4 separate regions of the Homo sapiens genome follow, and all the other regions are linked to region 2. The links come from fine-mapping of genetic effects on gene expression. A gene starts in region 2. Each other region holds a variant in brackets. All regions are shown on one strand. Distances are from middle to middle.

Region 1 (5,144 bases), 37 kb before region 2:
TTGTATTTTTAGTAGAGACAGGGTTTCACCGTGCTGGCCAGGCTGGTTTCAAACTCCTGACCTCAGGTGATCTGCCTGCCTCGGCCCCCCAAAGTGTTGGGATTACAGGCATAAGCCACCGCGCCTGGCCATTTTTTTTTGTATTTTTAGTAGAGATGGAGTTTCACCATGTAGGTCAGACTGGTCTCGAACTCCTGACCTCATGATCCGCCTGCCTCAGCCTCCCAAAGTGCTGAGATTACAGGCGTGAGCCACCGCACCCGGCTGAGTTGCTCCCACCTTTTATCTATTGTGAATAACACAGCTATCGACAGGGATGGGCAAGTGTCTCTTTATTTCCTTGCTTTCAATTTTTGGGGGATATATACCCAGAAGTGGAATTGCTGGAGCGTCCCTAGGTGTAATTTCCGAGGAACTGCCTTACTGTTTTCTAGAGGGGCGGCACTATTTTACATTCCCACCAGCAGTGCACAAGGGTTCCAGTCTCTCCACATCCTTACCAACATTCGTTATATTCTGGGTTTTCTTTGATACTAGTCAATGTAGTAGGAGTGAAAAGGAATCTCGTTGTCATTTCCATCTCCCTAATGATTAGTGATGCTGAGTATGGAGAAATGTCCATTCGAGTCCTTTGCTCTTTTTTTTTTTTTTTTTTTTTTTTGAGAGGGAGTCTCGCTCTGTCACCCAGGCTGGAGTGCAGTGGCGCGATCTTGGCTCACTGCAAGCTCCGCGTCCCGGGTTCACACCATTCTCCTGCCTCAGCCTCTTGAGTAGCTCGTACTACAGGCGCCCGCCACCACGCCTGGCTAATTTTTTGTATTTTTAGTAGAAAAGGGGTTTCACCGTGTTAGCCAGGATGGTTTCCATCTCTTGCCCTTGTGATCCGCCCGCCTTGGCCTCCCAAAGTGCTGGGATTACAGGTGTGAGCCACCGCGCCCAGCCTTTTTTTTTTTTTTTTTTTTTTTTTTTAAGACAGAGTCTCACTCTGTCACCCAGGCTGGAGTGCAGTGGCGTGATCTCGGCTCACTGAAACTTCCACCTCCTAGGTTTAAGCGAGTCTCCTGCTTCAGCCTCCCAAATAGCTGAGATTACAGGCATGTGCCACCACACCCGGCTAATTTTTGTAGTTTTAGTAGAGACGGGTTTCACCATGTTGGCCAGGCTGGTCTCGAACTCCTGACTTCAGGTGATCTGCCCGCCTCGGCCTCTCAAAGTGCGAGGATTACAGGCGTGAGCCACCGCGCCCAGCCTTGCTCATTTCTGAATTTGATTGTTAGGTTTTTGTTATTGAGTGTGTTTTTTTAATTGAGTGTAATATTCATACAGAGAAGCCACCAATCCCCAGAGGGCAGCTTGGTAAATTATCGTAGAGTGAATACGTCTGGGACACCAGCCCTCAGATCAAGAAATAGAATATTACCAGAGCCACCCTCCCCCAGAGCACTAAGATAATCGCTATCCTGACTTCTCACCAGATGTTTCTTTGGCCTGTTTTAGGGCTTCGCAGAAACAGAATCGTGCCGTACGCATTCATTTGTGTCTGGCTGCTTCTGCTCAACAGTATGTTGCTGAGATTCACCAACTGTGCATGGTGGCTGTGAATCCATTTTCAGTGCTGTAAGAATTTTACTCTATAAATATACTGAGAGGTACTTATCCACTCTCCTGTTGGAATTTGGGGCTATTGTGAAGGGTGCTGGTATAAACATCCTAGTGCACGTCGCACGTCATTTGGTGAACACGTGCACAGTGCACAGTTCTTTTGGGTCTATGCGTAAGAGTGGAATGTGGGGATCACATGTGTGGTCTCCTTTAGTAGGTATTACCCAAGGGTTTTCCAAAGTAGTTGTGCTATTTTACATTCCCAATAGTATATGAAGTTTCAGTTACTCCACATTCTTGCCCAAACTTGGTATCAACAGTGTTTTTAATTTTAGCAATTCTGGTAGGTGTAATATTGGTTTCTCACTGTGGTTTAAATTTGATGGCTTATGAGGCTGAGCATGTTTTAAATGCTTTTTGGCCATTTGGATGTTCATTTGCTCTTTCCTCTCCCTTCCCCCCTCCTCCCTCCCCCCTCCCTCCCTTTCTTCCTTCCCTTTTTTGTCCCTCTTCATTTCTTTCACCCATTGTCCTATTGGTCTGCCAGCTTTTTTCTTAATTTTTTAAAAAACTTTATTTAAGTACTGGGATACATGTACAGAACGTGCAGGTTTGTTACACAGGTAAACATGTGCCATGGTGGTTTGCTGCACTTATCCACCCGTCACCTAGGTATTAAGTCCCGCATGCATTTTTCTTATTAACTTACAGGAATTCTCTTTATACTCTACATGTGATTTATCTTTT[C/T]ACCCTCCTCCATTCCCCACCTCTTTTTTTAAGAGACAGAGTCTCACTCTGTCACCCAGGCTGCAGTGCAGTGGCACAATCATGGCTCACTGCAGCCTCAGCCTCCCAGGCTCAAGTGTTCCTCCTGCCTCAGCCTCCCAAGTATCTGGGACCACAGGCATGCACCACCACGCCCAGCCAATTTTTCATTTTTCGTAGAGACGAGGTCTTGCTAAGCTGCTCAGGCTGTTCTCTAACTCCTGACCTCAAGTGATCCTCCCGCCTTGGCCTCCCAAAGTGCTGGGATACAGCGTGAGCCACCACACCCGGCCCCATCTTTTTACTCTCTTATTGATGAAAAAATTCTTAATTTTACTATCATCCAATGTATCTGTAGGGGTGGGTTGCCCCTACACACCTGTGGGTGTTTCACGTAAGGTGGGACGAGAGATTTGGAAAAGAAAAAGACACAGAGACAAAGTATAGAGAAAGAAATAAGGGGACCCGGGGAACCAGCGTTCAGCATATGGAGGATCCCGCCAGCCTCTGAGTTCCCTTAGCATTTATTCATCATTTGTGGGTGTTTCTCGAAGAGGGGGATGTGTCAGGGTCACAAGACAATTGTGGGGAGAGGGTCAGCAGACAAACACATGAACAAAGGTCTTTGCATCATAGACAATGTAAAGGATTAAGTGCTGTGCTTTTAGATATGCATACACATAAACATCTCAATGCTTTACAAAGCAGTATTGCTGCCCGCAGGTCCCACCTCCAGCCCTAAGGCGGTTTTTCCCTATCTCAGTAGATGGAGCATACAATCGGGTTTTATACCGAGACATTCCATTGCCCAGGGACAGGCAGGAGACAGATGCCTTCCTCTTGTCTCAACTGCAAGAGGCATGCCTTCCTCTTATACTAATCCTCCTCAGCACAGACCCTTTACGGGTGTCGGGCTGGGGGACGGTCAGGTCTTTCCCTTCCCACGAGGCCATATTTCAGACTATCACATGGGGAGAAACCTTGGACAATACCTGGCTTTCCTAGGCAGAGGTCCCTGCGGGCTTCCGCAGTGTTTGTGTCCCTGGGTACTTGAGATTAGGGAGTGGTGATGACTCTTAAGGAGCATGCTGCCTTCAAGCATCTGTTTAACAAAGCACATCTTGCACCGCCCTTAATCCATTTAACTCTGAGTTGACACAGCACACGTTTCAGAGAGCACGGGATTGGGGGTAAGGTTATAGATTAACAGCATCCCAAGGCAGAAGAATTTTTCTTAGTACAGAACAAAATGGAGTCTCCCATGTCTACTTCTTTCTACACAGACACAGTAACAATCTGATCTCTCTTGCTTTTCCCCACATTTATCAATCATTTTCTTTGGGGATAGTGTTTTGTCTTATTGAAGAAATTTTTACCTGCCTCCTAAGGAGCCTTAAAAATCTCCATATGCCCACAAAGCCCCACTGTTCTAACGTCTATTTTGTGCTAGAAAATAAACGAGGCACTGTCCCAGAGGCTATGCCTATCTTGTGGGAAAACTGTCTTCATCATCATTTGCTAAGCTGGGAGATGATCGGGATGAGGACAATCTCCATGGCTCCCGGCATCTGATCCCTTCCTGCATTAGAGAGAGTGGGCCTGATGCCATCGTGGGCCCAGCCCCACCTGCACCCCACGGGGAAAGGGCAAGAGGAATGGAGAAGGTGTGGTGTCCTTGGGCAGAGCCAGCCCAGAGATGTGGTTCTGCAAACAGAATGAGGGTACAGATGAGTCTGCCTGCATCGCCACGGGGCTCCGGGGGCTGCAGGAGGTGGGAGAGAAGCAGGTAGAGGAGGGATCCAGCAGGAAGAAGAGCAGAGCATTCTCCCTGGAAAGGGAGAAAGAAGGACGCACCTTTCATTTAACAGCTCAGTGTTCCAGTGACCGGAGGTGAGGTCGCAGCTGCTGGTCCCACAGAGCCTGTCTCTGGCGTTAGTTGTTTAGATGTCAGAATTGGTGAAAAGTTTGAGATTGTACCAGCTGGTCCGGGAAAGGTGATGGGGGAGCTATAAAGCTTGCGGCAGGGCAGTCAGGGATGACCGGTGCACAGGGGCTCCAGGGCACATGAGCCACACGGTGCTTAGGGCCAGGCCTCCCAGGAGTGACCCAGACCAGCCTTTTCTTTCTCATCCTCTCACTCTCTGAATTCAAAAGCTTGAACATGCCACGAAATGTCCACCCAATAAAAAGAAAGTATTTGCCTACTGGGCTCAGACATGGTATTAAGGAAATTGCAAATCTACTGACTGTGACAGAAAGCAAATCAGTGGCTGCTTGGGATGGGGGGGGGTGGGAGGGGCTGTAGGGAGGGATTCCAAAGAATCATGAGGAAGCTTTGGGAGTCGTGATGCTCCTGGTCATGGTTTTGCGGGTGCGTACGTGTGTTAACATTGATCAAAAAAATTTGTTTTTTTTGAGATGGAGTTTCGCTCTTGTTGCCCAGGCTGGAGTGCAGTGGCACGATCTCGGCTCACTGCAACCTCCACCTCCTGGGTTCAAGTGATTCTCCCGCCTCAGCCTCCAGAGTAGCTGGGATTACAGGTGCCCGCCACCATGCCTGGCTAATTTTTTGTAGTTTTAGTAGAGATGCGGTTTCACTGTGTTGGTCAGGCTGGTCTCGAACTCCTGACCTCAGGTGATTCACCCACCTCGGCCTCCCAAAGTGCTGGGATTACGGCGTGAGCCACCATGCCTGGCTTGTTCTCTTGTATGTCAGTTACCCCTCCATGAGGCTGCTAAACATCTTCCCAGCACACACACGCACAGACACACACCTG
Region 2 (5,144 bases):
CGCCCTGATCATTATAAACAAACTTTTCACCTACATAAATGTCCAGTAGCATTGGAAAGTCATGAAGGATTCGGGACAATGCTGTTATTCTAGACTATCTTCATCCCTGTCTATGCATCCAGTAAAGACTAGTAGGGCCGGGCTCAGTGGCTCACGCCTGTAATCTCAACACTTTGAGAGGCCGAGGCGGGGGAATCACGAGGTCGAGAGATCGAGACTATCCTGGCGAACATGGTGAAACCCCGTCTCTACTAAAAGTACAAAAATTAGCCAAGTGTGGCGCCACGCCCCTGCAGTCCCAGCTACTTGGGAGGCTGAGGCAGGAAAATCGCTTGAACCCGGTAGGCAGAGGTTACAGTGAGCCGAGATTGCGCCACTGCACTCCAGCTTGGTGACAGAGCAGGACTTGGCCTCAAAAACAAACAAACAAACAAGACCAGGCCGGGCGTGGTGGCTCACGCCTCTAATCCCAGCACTTTGGGAGGCCGAGGCTGGCGGATCACGAGGTCAGGAGATCAAGACCATCCTGGCTAACACGGTGAAACCCCGTTTCTACTAAAAATACAAAAAAAAAAAAAAATTAGCCGGGCGTGGTGGCGGGCACCTGTAGTCCCAGCTACTCGGGAGGCTGAGGCAGGAGAATGGCGTGAACCCGGGAGGTGGAGCTTGCAGTGAACCGAGATCGCGCCACTGCACTCCAGCCTGGGCGACTGAGCGAGACTCCGTACGAAAACAAACAAACAAAAAAGACTGGTAGTATGCCCTCAGTCATTACACAACTCAAACACCAACTCCACAAATTCCCAAAACACTCCTAGATGAAGTGGTATCCCTTCACTGAGAACTGGCCTTTCAGGGACCAGACATATCATGCAACCTAGTGAAGTGGGCTGGACCAAGACAGGTCCAGGGAGCAGCTGGGCGTCTAAAGGGGCAGCACAGTTTATTCCCAACAGTTTGTTGCCATCTGGGAATATGCCATGAGTTACCAAATATTCCAGTGATTCCAGAGAAAGCTAAAATCCAGATTCTTATGTGAAATCTTTTGATTTCTAAATATTGGCAACAAGTTTTAAGATTTGTAAACATTCTGGGAATCAAAACAGCTCTGCTGGTTTGGTGTGGCTCATGTTGCCTCACTTTGCAAAGTGTTAAGTGCTAGTAAATTTTAGTGTTTTTTCTGAGACAGGGTCTCACTTTGTCGCCCAGCCTGGAGTGCAGTGGCCATGATCTCCGCTCACTGTGGGATCGACCTCCCGGGCTCAAGCGATCCTCCCACTCTCAGCCCCCCAAGGAGCTAGGAGTAGAGCTGTCCCGCCACGACATCTGGCTGGTTTTTTGTTGTTGTTGTTGTTGTTGTTTTGGTATTTTAGTAGAGACGGGGTTTCGTCCTACTAAAGGCCCGCCTGGGCCTTCCGAAGTGCTGGGATTACAGGCGTGAGCCACCGCGCCCGGCCAAAATTTTCCTTTGTACTTACTCAAATTCCTTTCTTTTCCAAGTGAAGAAACAGACTGAGTGTATAGTGACTTACCCAGGCCACACAGTTGGATACCAGAGATAGTAGTCACAATCGCTAACATCTGCCATGTGGTCCTTACTGCAAATCTTATTTAATAATGAGGTCGGTTTTTGTTATCCCACTTAACTAATCAATAGGAGAAGCCACCTCTGATTTCCAGTCCACTATCGTGCACTCTTTCTTGCCAAGCCGTCATAGTCATTAGATTAAAAAAAAAAAAAAATTCCTGCTTTCCTGCCTCGCCTGTGCGTTTCCTTAGTCGCCCTTTCGGGGCTTGTTCTAATGAGTGCTACAGAAAAATGACGAAGTGGAAAATATAGACCATGAAATGAAAATTTAAAAGAGGAAATGGTGTCACAAAGACAACGACGGCCAGGGAACCCCGTGAAGCGCCGGGCAGGGTGCACAACTGTCCTCGGAGAAAGTTCAAGAGGAACTTCCCCGCGAACAGGTCCTGCCGGCGGCCGGGAATACGCACACTTTTTATGTTATGACTTGGACTTTCCCGAACCTTTCGAAACAGAGGGAAGGCGAGGCGGTGAAGAGGGAGAAAAATCTCCCCCACCTAAGGCAAAGGCGATGCCCGCCCGCCCCCACCCCGCGCCCGCCCGCCCGCTGGGTCACATGACACGGCCAAGATGGCCGACCGGGAAGGCGGCTGCGCTGCTGGGCGGGGGCGGGAGCTGGAGCCGGAGCTGGAGCCGGGGCCGGGGCCCGGGTCAGCGCTTGAGCCGGGAGAAGAGTTTGAGATCGTGGACCGAAGCCAGCTGCCCGGCCCAGGCGACCTGCGGAGCGCAACGAGGCCGCGGGCGGCCGAGGGCTGGTCGGCGCCCATCCTGACCCTGGCACGCAGGGCCACCGGGAACCTGTCGGCGAGCTGCGGGAGCGCGCTGCGCGCGGCCGCGGGGCTGGGCGGCGGGGACAGCGGGGACGGCACGGCGCGCGCAGGTAGGCTCGGGCCGGGTCTGTCCCGCGGCGGACTCGCGTGTCCCCGCTGGCCGCCGGCGCGGGCGCGGTGGGGGCCGGGCTGGGAGGGCACTGGCCGTTCCGGGAGGTTACGCGAGCTGTTGGCGGGCGGGCGGCGCCTGGCTGCGCCTGGGTCTTTACTCCGGCGGCCCAGCCGAGACCGCCCCCCGCAGCCCCGCGTGCCTGAGCGCGCTCCCGCACCCGCGCCTCTATGCTCTCCCACTAACTAGGTGAAGGACGTGTGCGCGTCCGGGCTTCGGAACTCTGTAGTAACTCCACACACGAAACGGAGCCAGCACTGTTCTGCTTTTCAGCCGTTCAGTGCGGGAGTGGAGCGCCGGCGGGTGTTGGGAGGGCGTGGGCCCTGCGCGCAGCGGACCAGCGGCGCCTCCGCTCACCTCTGCCTGTGAGATGGGGATTTTAAAGTCACCCGATGATCTCTTAAAGACCTTTTCAGCCCTTGTAATGAACAGAGTGCCAGCATATCAGTGATAGTAAGAGTTAAGTAACTTAGCCCTCTAACGCCAGACATCCAGAGCTGTGCTATCCAATACAACAGCACGCATATGTTTTTGTGTGTGTGTTTTTGTTTTTATTTATTTTTATTTTTTTGAGACCGGGTCTTGCTCTGTCGCCCAGGCTGGAGTGCAGTGGTGCGATCTCGGCTCACTGCACCCTCTGCCTCCCGGGTTCAAGCGATCCTCCCTCCCGCCTCAGCCTCCCGAGTAGCTGGGATTACAGGTGCCCACCACCACGCTCGGCTAAGTTCCCCGCCCCCACCCCCCTCCCATATTTTTAGTAGAAACGGGGTTTCACCATCTTGGCCAGGCTGGTCTTGAACTCCTGACCTTGTGATACACCTGCCTCGGCCTCGTAAAGTACTGGGACTACAGGCTTGAGCCACCGCGCCCGGCCGGATTCCTCAATTTCTAACTGAATCAATTGAAATTCAGTACTTTTAAATTGAATTAAAAATTGAGTTCCTCGGCCGGGAGCGGTGGCTCACGCCTGTAATCCCAGCACTTTGGGAGGCCGAAGCGGGTGGATCACGAGGTCAAGAGATCGAGACCATCCTGGCCAACATGGTGAAACCCCGTCTCTACTAAAAATACAAAAAATTAGCTGGGTGTGTTGGCATGCACCTGTAGTCCCAGCTACTCAGGAGGCTGAGGCAGGAGAATCGCTTGAACCTGGGAGGCAGAGGTTGCAGTGAGCCGAGATCGCGCCACTGCACTCCAGCCTGGGTGACAGAGCGAGACTCTGTCTCAAAAAAAAAAAAAAAAAAAAAAACTTGTTCCTCGATTACAGCGGCCACATTTTAAATGCTCAGTAGCCTGTGTGTGGCCAGTGGCTACTGTATGAGATAGCACATAATAGAACATTGCCAACTTCATAGAAAATGCTGGGACAGAGCTGAGGAAAGGTTGTGGTGCCTTCCAAGGAGCATCATAGCACACACTCGAGGCTTCCTGATTCCTCCCCATCCACTGGTACCTTTGCTGTAGATGCACTGACCCCAGGTAGTGAATTGTGAGATTTTCAGTGGTCAAGAATAATTACTGAGTAAAGTTGAAAGGCTGACTCGTTTTGAGATCCTGGCAGTGGAAAATAGCATTAGAGGATGATGAGAGCCTGGGCAGGCCGGGAATCTACTGCCCTCTAGCTTGACACCTTTTCCCGAGACTTTTCCACACATCAGTGGATGCTGAGTTGCATACTCATTGACAGTCAGTACTGAAAGTCAAGGCATGGCGTCTCCTGGAGGCCTCTTAGATATTTCGTGGCAGGAGTAAGCAAATAATAAAAGTTCTTCCCTGCTAGAATTTCTTTCCTTTAATGCAGAATCAAGGAAAAAATTAAAAAGATAAAATGAAATGTGTCAGTACCTGGCACAGAATAATAAGTGTTTGCTGAACAAATGCATATTTGAAAAATACCTGTGTTCCATCTATGGAAGTGATAGAAACAATAGCCAACACTTATATTGTCCTTCAAAGGTGCCAGGCATTAGTCTTAAACCTGTACAAGTATTCATTCATTCCTCACAACAACCCTATGTGATAGCAGGACTAGCTTCATGGGTGGACAGTCAATGCAGGCTTTGATCACTCTGGTGGAAAGGGCCAGGCACTCAGAAGTATCCCATGCTTGAAATTCTTAATTTTATCTTTGAATTTGTGTTTTTTAAGTGAAGTCCAATGGGACAGGTTCTCAGTTGCCCTGGCCCACTCGAGCTGCCCTGGGGCTTCTCCCTACCCTCCCTGATCCCACTCTTGCCCAGGCAGCGTTGGGATTGCACCCTCCGAATCTCAGGGCAGGGTGGCTGGTACCACAGCACATTAGGCAGGCAAGTGGGCAGGGGCCTCTCACCTGTCCCATCCCTGCAGGGAAGTTGCAATCCATTAGGGCTGTAGTAAGGGGGAGTCTGACTTCTGTGCTCTGCTCCAGGCCGGGAATTTTGCACTGGGCCTTGTAAATCATGTAGATGGCACAGGGTGATGAGTACCATTATTATCCCTATTTTATAAAGAGAGTATTAAAGAGAAGTAACTTCACCAACTGCAAAATGTCTATATATATATCCCATATGGATTTAAAAAACTAGGCCGGGCATGGTGGCTCACACCTGTAATCCCAGCATTTTGGGAGGCCGAGGCA
Region 3 (5,144 bases), 74 kb after region 2:
CAAAAGAAAAAGAAAAAAAGACACCCATAAAAGAAAAGCTGGTGTTCAAAGATAGGTAAAGAAAACAAAGTCTGCCAAACCTGCCGCACTCCCCCAAGGGCCAGGAGGACGGGCGGGGCTTTCGAAATTTCCATTGCGTAACAGCGGGCCGCCGGGCGCGAGCAGCACAGCGGTGAGTGTAGTCGCCCGCGCCTCGCCAGGGGGCGCCCCGGGTCCCACCCGGCCCGGCCCGGCCCGGCCCGCCCCGCCCCGCCCCGCCCCAGCCCGGCCGCCCGCCAGCCCGCCCGCCCCGGCCTCGAACTCGAACTCCCGCGTCCTAGTTCTAACTCACCAGAAAAAAACCTCTGCACTTCATCGGCCGAGCAAGACCAGGGCAAGCCCCGGACCTTCACCACGAATCCCTCTCCACCTTCCGTGCCCAACATCATCGTCTCTTACGCGGTCCGGCGTCGAAACAAACTGCAAAGCGGGGAGGACCAGAACTGAGAGCGCCAATTAAGCTGTCCTTCGCCTCCGAGGCGCGCCCGGGCCCGCACCGCCCCCCCACGGAGCAAAAACCGGGCGGATGCACCCACCCCGGCGACTCCAACACCTCCTCGTCCGGCGACCGGACCCCCAAAGCTGTCCTGAGCAACAGCTGTCGGCGCCCCGAACCGTGGGGGCCCGGGCCGAGAGCCAGCGTAGAGGAAAGGAAATGGCGGCGGCCGCTTCCGCTCCGCCTCCTCCGACTTCTCACACAATAGAGTCGGCGCGGCCTGCAGGCCTCAGCGGCGGTGCCGAGATTCAGCGAACCACTCGCGGCTCTCGACGGCAGCCTGCAGCTCGCCAAGGTCCCCGTGGCCCTCCCAGAGATATGGGGACAAACAATCCTCGCAAAAACGGTACCCACCGTGGTCGCTGAACTGCAAGCGAGGACCCACCGCGACTCACCTAGACACGCGACTTCTGCGTGGCTAAGACGAAATGGCCAGCGGGCGCCTGCGCAACCTAAATAAGGTCCCTTGTGCGAGTTCTGCGCACGCGCAGCCAGCTGCCCGCACCGCCCCGTTGCGTCACAAAGAGCTCTGGCGCATGCGTAATTTCAAGAGCCAGCCCACCTCCCGCCGGCGGATTATTACACGCTTGGGTTTTGGGCTCAGCACCCCCACCCATAAACCCGCCGGGCTTTTTGTTGCGCCTGCGCCTTCCCGCGAATATTGAACTTCGGAGTCCTAGCGGTTTATAATTATTTCATGCGCATGCGTCTTCCTTGAAACCGTTCTCTAGCCTTACCCGCCAGCGTGGGGGAGGGGAATGGCGGCCGCCTGTTCCCTATGGGACTGTATAGGAGTCCCGAGCTCTGGGTTGTGATGAGGTGGGCGTCTTTCTACCCCTTGCCCCCAGGCTCTTACCGGCGCGCTCCTGGCCGACCTGAAAGGAGGGGCGCGGCCTTCAGGCGTTCCCACTCCCCGCGCCGCCTGTCTTCCCTTTATCCCCAAACCGGCCGAAGCTGGTCAGCTGCAGATTGTCGAACGTCCTGGGAGCTGCGGGGCTGCGGACGTCCCGCGCCCGAAGCCACCCGTATGGTGCCTGGGGCACGTCCCAGCCCTGTGTGCCTCCACTTCCCCTTACCTGCCGTCGTCGGGCCTAGGGCCCCGGTCGGCGCGAGGTTTCCGTGCCTGTGGCTCGCGCCTGTACCCAGCTTTTGCCTAACGAATTCGCACCCTGTGTACCCCTTGACCCGCCTAACGGTCGGCAGGCCTTGACTGCCCTGGGGCCCTGGCACGAGGAGGGATCGCGAGCGCGGGCTCCACGGGTGCGCGCCGGCCTCTGCGCTCGGTAGGTTACCGCTGCATCTCCCAGAGCAGAATTGGTAAGAGTGCGTCCATTCACCAGGCGTAGACGCTGCATTCGAGGAGGCCCCCGGGTCACCCCATGTGCACACATGCTGCGAGATGACTAATGTTCGTGGTTTCTAGCAGCACTGCCCAAAACCTAAGATGCCGTAGCCTCCCAGGCCTCCCCATGTCTGATTTGGCTGCCTTCCTCACCCCAGCTTTAGTGGACACAGACAATACACAAATTAACAATAAGGTAGTGCTGGACCCTGCCGCAGAGCTACCTTAGCTAGTGCAAGCCTGAGTGCCACCCTGGGAAGATGCGGACAAAGCATGTTTCCAACCCCAGTGCCACAGAGTCCGAATCCAGTTTTGACAGGTTTGAGAAAAAGTAGAGAGGACATCAAAAGAAAGACAGGAGCCCAGAGCTAAGCAGGGCCTGATCTTCAAAGGCCACTTAGGCCTTGGCAAGGGTGTTATCTCCGAGAGAAGGCTTTGGCAGGTGATCAGCAGGGGAGCCGTAAACCCTGTGTAAAGGAAAACTCTTGCTGGATGTGAGGGGGATGCAGATGGAGCAGGCAGGGTGAATGACGGTACATACCAGGCCCTCTACTACAAACTGAACTAGAAGCACACACCTGTGGTACCATTTCAGAAGGCACTTTGGCTGAGGTAATCAAGAAGAGAGTCCGGCCAGGTGCGGTGGCTCACTCGTGTAATACCAGCATTTTGGGAGGCCGAGGCAGGCAGATCACTTGAGATCAGGAGTTTCAGACCAGCTTGGCCAACATGGTGAAACCCCATCTCTACTAAAGATACAAAAATTATCTATGCATGCACACGCCTGTAATCCCAGCTACTCTGGAGGCTGAGGCAGGAGAATCACCTGAACCCAGGAGGCAGAGGAAGCAGTGAGCTGAGATCACACCACTGCCCTCCAGCCTGGGCTACAAAGACTCCCTCTCAAAAAAAAAAAAAAAAAAAAATTAGCCAGGCATGGTGATGCATGCCTGTAATCCCAACCACTTGGCAAGACTGAGGCAGGAGAATCACTTAAACCCAGGAGGCAGCAGTTGCAGTCAGCTGAGATCACGCCATTGCACTCCAGCCTGGGCAATAAGAGCAAAACTCCGTCTCAAAAAAAAAAAAAAAAAGAATAGTAGTAAGGTAGAATACATTTCATACACTTATAGCCAATTCTCTTATATATAAATTGTCCAACTTATATTAAAACAAGGTTTTTAAATTTTTATTTTTTATTTGTTTGTTTGAGACACAGC[C/G]CGTCACCCAGGCTGGAGTGCAGTGGTGCAAACATGGCTCACCACAGCCTCTACCTTCTGGGCTCAAACAATCCTCCTGCCTCAGCCTCCTGAGTAGGTAGGACCACAGGCATGTGCCACCTTGCTCAGATTATTTATTTATTTATTTATTTATTTATTTATTTTTTGTAGCAATGGGGTCTCATTTTGTTGCCCAGGCTGGTCTTGAATTCTTGGGCTCAAGGAATCATTCCACCTCAGCCTCGCAGAGAAAGTGCTGGGATTACAGGTGTGAGCCACCATGGCTGGCAATGAAAGGTTTTTTTGTTTGGTTTTGTTTTTGAGACAGTCTAACTCTGTCACCCAGGCTGGAGTACAGTGGTGCAATCTTGGCTCACTGCAACCTCTGCCTCCTAGGTTCAAGCAATTCTCATGCCTTAGCCTCCCAAGTAGAGGGATTACAGGTGTGTGCCACCACACCTGGCTACTTTTTTTTAAGTTTTAGTTGAGATGGGGTTTTGCCATGTTGGCCAGGCTGGTCTGGAACTCCTGACCTCAAGTGATCTGCCTGCCTCGGCCTCCCAAAGTACTGAGATTACAAGCATGAGCCACCATGCTCGGCCAAAGGTTTTTTTAAATAAAAAGTTAATCATCAGCCCACGCGTGGGGCTCATGCCTGTAATCCCAGCACTTTGGGAGGCCGAGGCAGGTGGATCAAGAGTTCAGGAGTTAGAGACCAGCCTGACCAACATGGTGAAACCCCGTCTCTACTAAAAATACAAAAAGTAGCCGGGCATGGTGTCGCGTGCCTGTAATCCCAGCTACTCAGGAGGCTGAGGCAGGAGAATCACTTGAACCTGGGAGGTGGAGGTTGCAGTGAGCAGAGATTGCACCACTGCACTCCTGCCTGGGCAACAGAGCAGGACTCTGTCTTTAAAAAAAAAAAAAAAAATTCATCATCTTGCCTCAGTGGTCTTTATGTCTTGGTATACTTCTTTTTTTTTTTTTTTTTGAGACGGAGTCTCGCTCTGTCGCCCAGGCTGGAGTACAATGGCGCGATCTCCGCTCACTGCAAGCTCCGCCTCCCAGGTTCACACCATTCTCCTGCCTCAGCCTCCCGAGTAGAGTAGCTGGGACGACAGGCGCCCGCCACCACGCCCAGCTAATTTTCTTGTATTTTTACTAGAGACGGGGTTTCACCGTGTTAGCCAGGATGGTCTCGATCTCCTAACCTCATGATCCGCCCACCTCGGGCTCCCAAAGTGCTGGGATTATAGGTGTGAGCCACTGCGCCCGGCTAATGTCTTCGTATACTTCTTACAGTTTACAGAGCTCTTTATTAAGGCTGTTAGCCCTTAGGATAGTTGCCCCAGACATTCTTCTCAGTTTGCTTACCTTTTAATTATTTTTGTGGTTTTGTGGTGGTATTTTTTGTTTGTTTTACAGACAATGTCTTGTTCCGTGCAGTGACACAATCATAACTCACTGCAGCCTTGAACTCCTGGGCTCAAGCCATCCTCCAAGCTCAGCCTCCTGAGTAGCTGGGACTAAAGGCACTTTCAACCAGGCCCGACTAATTTTTTTTTTTTTTGTAGTGATGGGGGTCTCACTATGTTGCCCAGGCTAGTCTTGAATTCCTGGCGTCAAGCAATTCTCCCACCTTGGCCTCTCAAAGCCCTGGGATTATTCTACATGTGAGCCATGATGCTCGGCCCTGATTTATGCCTTTTTTTTTTTTAAGACAGGGTCTCACTTCGTCACTCAGGTTGGAGTGCAGGTATGTGATCTCGGCTCACTGCAACCTCCACCTCCCGGGTTCAAGCAATTCTTGTGCCTCAATCTCCCAAATTGCTGGGATATGCCAGGTGCAATGGCTCACACTTGTAATCCCAGCACTTTGGGAGGCTGAGGTGGGTGGATAACTTGATGTCAGGAGTTTCAGACATGTTGGCCAACATGGTGAAACCCTGTCTCTACCAAAAATACAAAAATTAGCCGGGCATGGTGGTGGGCGCCTGTAATCCCAGCTACTTGGGAGGCTGAGGCAGGAGAATCACTTGAACCCAGG
Region 4 (5,144 bases), 57 kb after region 2:
CTCTCTCTCACTGCTATGAAATGGCCTTTTTTTTTTCCTTAGGTCCAAGCTGAAGATGGAAGATATAAAAGAAGTGAACCAGGCACTGAAGGTACTGCCTTGCTAAGAACCACTTCTTTGCTGTCAGCTTGTGCTGACTGCCCGTGTGCTCGTACGTTTAAGTATCCCAACAGTCAGGTGAGAGCGTGTGGTTGAGGCAGTGGTGATGACGTATTGACAGAGAAGCCAAACGCTGCTCAGAAACGTGTCCCTCGGCTGAGGGCGATGCTGACAGGTGGCCGAAGCTGAGCCTAGGTCTTCCGACTCCAGTTCCTCCACCATCAGCTGTGCTTTCAAAATAGGCCTGATGGGCATTCCCTAAGGGGGAAGCAGGTGGCGGAGAGGAGGGACCCGCGGATATCTTTAAACAGTGGAAAACAGGCCCTTCTGTTGAAGTGAGGGGCCAGAGGCCAGCCAGCCCCACTGCAGTGCCCTGTGCCATTGCTAGGGACCACTCAAGCCAAGCCCTGAGTTGGGCCAGGTTTCCGCACCCTGGTGGGGAGGGCAGAATGACACATTCCACCGAAAAGCAGGAGTTTGCAGGTGGCCCGGTGTGGGTGCGGGTGCCAGGCTGAGCTGCAGGGCGGAGAGTGTGGGAGAGGAGGCAGACATTCGGGGGCACGGCAGCCTGGCCTTCAAGACAGCCTTGCCTGCAGGAGCACCCCGCTTCGGCCTCAGCTGTGCCGTGGCAGCAATGCAAAAGCAGTCCCTTTGCACACTGTTCCACGTGGTGCAGAGCAGGGACCCTGATGTCTCTGGGCATCTAACTTCCAAGTGCCAGGTCAGGGGCAGCAACTAACAGCAGCCGGGACTTCTAGGTAATATCAGTTTCACAGCATCAGAGGATAGAAATCATAAAACAGGACTCTAGAGCCGCCAGAGCTCTTTGATGTCAGGATGAATGTCCTGGGCACACACTGGCAGCCCCAAGGGTATATGGCTCTAGCTCAGTCTGTGAGGATCTATTTGTCAGCAAGAAAATCTTGTCCAGCAGATGTTAACAGGCCAGAAAAGTACCTCATGCCTTTGACTTCTCTGGAACACCCCAGTCCCTAAGCCCAAATAAATCACAGGTGCTGCTTCGCCCTGAGAAAGCCCTCTGAGGGGCCACCTTTCAAAGCCTCAGCCGCCTCCCCTGTGGAATGGAGTCCATGTGCTCCCCAGGGCTGGTCAAGAATCAGGGCTTTGGCCCGCATGGAGAAGGGCTTCCTCAGGCCTGTGGGACGCAGTGCCCGCTGTCCATCACCTTCTGTCTCTCCACAAGGATCAGCGTCAACAAGTGTCTTAGTCTCACTCAGATTTGGCCCTTCTTCCGCGCCTGCCAGTTCAGCTAGCACTTCGGCCAGTGTCTCAGGCAGGGTCTAGGGTTGCAGGCACCAGAAGCTCGCTCTGCTTACTTCAGCCAAAGGGAACTGATTGAAAGTGGGAGTGTGCCTGAGTGAGCAGATGCTGGAGACCGCCTGGAGGCCCCAGGGCAGCCTGCAGAGGCCAAGAGGTGGAGCACGGAGCTAGGATGCAGAAATCCCGGCTGCGGCCAGACGGGGAAAGAGCCCCTTGATGACAGTCCTGTGAGGCCCCATCTGATGGAGAAACAGTGCCTCACTAGGAAACAGGTGCTATGAGGGACAATGGATGTGGCCAGAACGCAGCTACCCACTCATCAGGGGCTTAGACAGAAAGTGGATTCTAGAATGTCCTTTCCTCTTCAGGGCCACGCCTGGCTGAAAGATGACGAAGCGACACACTGTAGGCAGTGTGAGAAGGAGTTCTCCATTTCCCGGAGAAAGGTACGTGGGGGCTCCACCCACCCTCCCAGTGCCCTGAGTCGTTGCCCGCTGGATTCCCCTTTCTCTGGTTCCAGAAGCCCATATCAGAGCAGGCTCACTGCCCGGTGACTGTGCTGACTGTGGCAGATGGGCAGCCCCGCCTCTCCTGTTTGCCTGTGCAGATGGCTTTCCATCCTGGCACCCTCTTTCTGGGAGGCCTTGGCCAGTCATAGGCCCCTGGTCTCCAGCACATCCTTTCAGTGATTGACAATGATTTTTGGGGAGATGGGGCTCCTTGTGTGCAGAGCTGCTCTAGGGGAGTGTCATTGAAAATTCTCTGTATGCGGCAGGAACAAAATCTGGCCCAACTTAGGCAAAAACAATCTATGGGGAACCTACAGGGCAGCAGGTCACCAAAAATCACTAGTGATCTAGGCAGCGTGCTTGCCCCTGCCCTTTAGGTTCTGGAAACAAGGTCCTAGGCTCACCCTTGGGTCTAGGGTTGACTGGGCCTTATTAACAGTCTCACCAAGACCAGCTGGGTAGGGGAAGAGTTGGGTATAAGCAAAACTGGGAGCTAAAGGAAACACTGCCAGCGCCACCCACCTTTCTGCCACAGCCATGTTCTGTCTGTTCCCATCAACAGCCTAGCTCTGTGGAAGAGAGGAAGCCACAGCTACCCCACCCGCTCCCCAACCCGAGTTTCAGGCAGTGCCTTGCAGTAAGCTCAGAGCTAGAAACCACGTCCTGAGGCTGCCTTTGAGATCACATGTGTCTACAAGGCCTGGCTGTC[C/T]CCATCTGTGGAGTCAGAAGCAGAGGCTGCACAGGTGCTCATCTTGATGTCTTATCAGGCACCCAGGGAACCTGTTTAGAAAGGGATCTACTCCACCCCCTTGGAATGCAGCAAAGAGAACGAACCAGACTCTTCCTGTAACATGGACTAGCAGCTCACTGGCTTAGTGATGAAGTACAGCAAAAGTAAACTTTTTGTCTTAAAAACACCCTTAGGCCGGGCACGGTGGCTCATGACTGTAATCCTAGCACTTTGGGAGGCTGAGGTGGGTGGATCACGAGGTCAGAAGTTCAAGACCAGTCTGGCCAAGATGGTGAAACCCCATCATCTCTACTAAAAAAATACAAAAACTAACCGGGCACGGTGGCAGGCACTTGTAATCCCAGCTACTTGGGAGGCTGAGGCAGGAGAATCGCTTGAACCCAGGTGGCAGAGGTTGCAGTGAGCCGAGATTGCGCCACTGCACCCCAGCCTGGGCGACAGAGACTCAAAAAAAAAAAAAAAAGCCGGGCGCGGTGTTTCACGCCTGTAATCCCAACACTTTGGGAGGCCAAGGCGGAGGCAGATCACGAGGTCAGGAGATCGAGACCATCCTGGCTAACATGGTGAAACCCCGTCTCTACTAAAAATACAAAAAATTAGCCAGGTATAGTGGCGGGCACCTGTAGACCCAGCTACTGCCGGAGAATGGCGTGAACCTGGGAGGCAGAGCTTGCAGTGAGCTGAGATCGCGCCACTGCACTGCAGCCCGGGCGACTGAGCAAGACTCTATCTCAAAAAAAAAAAAAAAAAAAGACCCTTGTTTGCACACAGCCCCTCACCACCCCACAGAAACATAAGAACCCATTCCCAGCAAATGATGCGCTTCTGGGTCAGGAAGCAGGGAGGGTGTGCGGATGGCTTTTCCCCGGGTGTCCTGTGACCGCCTTCTTCCCGTCCTGTAGCACCACTGCCGGAACTGTGGCCACATCTTCTGCAACACCTGCTCCAGCAACGAGCTGGCCCTGCCCTCCTACCCCAAGCCGGTGCGAGTGTGCGACAGCTGCCACACCCTGCTCCTGCAGCGCTGCTCCTCCACGGCCTCCTGAACGTCCGTCCTCAGGAGCACAGCCTCACGGACAGTGCCAAACCCTGTGGGTCTCCAGGGGCTTGGGAAATGTGTTCTTTCCCAAGAGTATCAAAGGAAAGAATCAAATTTCTTGCCCGGTCACTGGCACTCCAGAAGACAGCGTGCCGGAACCGGCAGCTCTCACCTTTCTGTGACTTGTTCGGAATTAACTCCTCTGGATGGAAACTTCCATCTTACTTGGTTACATCACGGCTCTGGTTCAGATACAACTTCATGATTTTGCTACTATCATTTTTCACTTTTCAAAGAATTTAACCTATTTTACAGCAGTTCAGTTCTGCTAGTGAGTAGTTTTCCTCTCCTACCTTCCTTCTAAAAACCTGATTCATGCACAGCGTTTGACACACATGGAGTCTGCCAGTGTGCCTTCTCTGCTTCAGACAAGAGATCTGCCATTTCATGCCCTTGTGACTACCTATCATTGGCCCTGCAATAAAATCATTTATTTTTCACTCTGGTGCGTGCAGAAGCTTGTGTCAACTTCCAAAGAGCCCACCGCACCGGAGGAGGCCTCAGAGCGCCCCTCGTGCCCGAGCCCCGTGTGAGTGAGAGGCTGCTGGTGCTGCCCCAGAGCCTGCAGGGCAGCCTGGTGAGCCAAGGGCAGTTTGCAGGGTCAGCCTGCCGTCAACAGGCAGAGGAGGTGACCCCAAGCCTGTCACCAAAGTGCAAGAGTCGTTCACGTACATAGTTGGGAGTTTGATAGGTTACAGATGGAGACACCTGTGAAAAGGCACGTGCCAGGCAGCCATTTTTCACATTTCAAATGCAGCGCTACGACTGGCTTCCAGTCCCTCCCTCGGAGGCCCCCACCCCCAAAGATCCAATGGCCCGGGGCTCCCTTCCGGTAGAGACAACAGCATTATCAAGTCCAGACAGCCAACAGTCAAGTCTTCCAGGCCTCATCCTTCTCCACCTTCTATACACATACCTTGTCCGCGACCCTACCCTCCCTTCCCACGGGCTTCCTACCCTCGCCAAATCCAGGCCTCAGGATTCCACTCCTCCTTTGGGCTCTTCCTCCGAAGCAGGCTCCCCCACGACCTGGTCAGCCCTGGTAGATGCTTGCATGGCACCCTCAACTGAATTCCTCCTCTGCCGCTCCCTCCCCTCAAACCGCTCTGAAGATGGAAAAGGTGGGAGCTTGGGCAAGACTCAAGGATTCCCCCTCCATCCTATACCGCTTAGGACTGTGCGGCCAGACTTCAAGACGAGGTCCGCCCTGCTCCAAAGCCATGTCCTAGCAGGGTTCCAACCCTATTAGGCAAGCACATTGGCAGCCCTCCCCTTTCCTCACCCCTCACCGTAACAGCTGCCGTCTCATACAGGGCCAAACTTTCAGAAAAAACTGCCTATCACTCACTACCCCTAACTGGCATATATGACATCTGTGCCTTTTCAATACACCCAGTTTGGACCC

Evidence for each region. PIP is the estimated chance that this variant, and not a neighbour inherited with it, causes the effect.
Region 1: its variant is fine-mapped to the expression of RUFY1 in transverse colon (GTEx, PIP above 0.99). The same link has a PIP of 0.9 or more in coronary artery.
Region 3: its variant is fine-mapped to the expression of RUFY1 in whole blood (INTERVAL, PIP above 0.99).
Region 4: its variant is fine-mapped to the expression of RUFY1 in whole blood (TOPMed, PIP above 0.99).

Annotation. Positions count from the first base shown.
Region 1 is chr5:179,511,243-179,516,386 of GRCh38, forward strand. It overlaps the pseudogene LOC100128622. Among named protein-coding and RNA genes, the nearest start is that of RUFY1, 37 kb to the right of the region's middle. RefSeq lists an enhancer at 2,882-3,729. The variant C/T (reference allele first, on the strand shown) is at 2,350.
Region 2 is chr5:179,548,412-179,553,555 of GRCh38, forward strand. RUFY1 (RUN and FYVE domain containing 1) reads left to right here and starts at 2,143. Exons shown (of 18, transcript NM_025158.5): 1 at 2,143-2,468. The coding sequence starts at 2,159. The region is part of intron 4 of LOC128966623 (a long non-coding RNA gene); the gene reads left to right. LOC105377762 (a long non-coding RNA gene) reads right to left here and starts at 2,093. Exons shown (of 4, transcript XR_941315.4): 1 at 1,533-2,093. RefSeq lists a silencer at 2,068-2,777.
Region 3 is chr5:179,622,706-179,627,849 of GRCh38, forward strand. HNRNPH1 (heterogeneous nuclear ribonucleoprotein H1) reads right to left here and starts at 966. Exons shown (of 14, transcript NM_001257293.2): 1 at 890-966; 2 at 332-459. The coding sequence starts at 428. All of the region lies in intron 4 of LOC128966623 (a long non-coding RNA gene), which reads left to right. RefSeq lists enhancers at 738-907, 963-1,257, 1,007-1,792, 1,793-2,577. The variant C/G (reference allele first, on the strand shown) is at 3,098.
Region 4 is chr5:179,605,834-179,610,977 of GRCh38, forward strand. RUFY1 (RUN and FYVE domain containing 1) reads left to right here. Exons shown (of 18, transcript NM_025158.5): 16 at 43-91; 17 at 1,749-1,826; 18 at 3,543-4,179. The coding sequence ends at 3,686. All of the region lies in intron 4 of LOC128966623 (a long non-coding RNA gene), which reads left to right. Among named protein-coding and RNA genes, the nearest start is that of RUFY1-AS1, 4.7 kb to the left of the region's middle. RefSeq lists enhancers at 916-1,416, 1,417-1,917, 1,985-2,044. The variant C/T (reference allele first, on the strand shown) is at 2,599.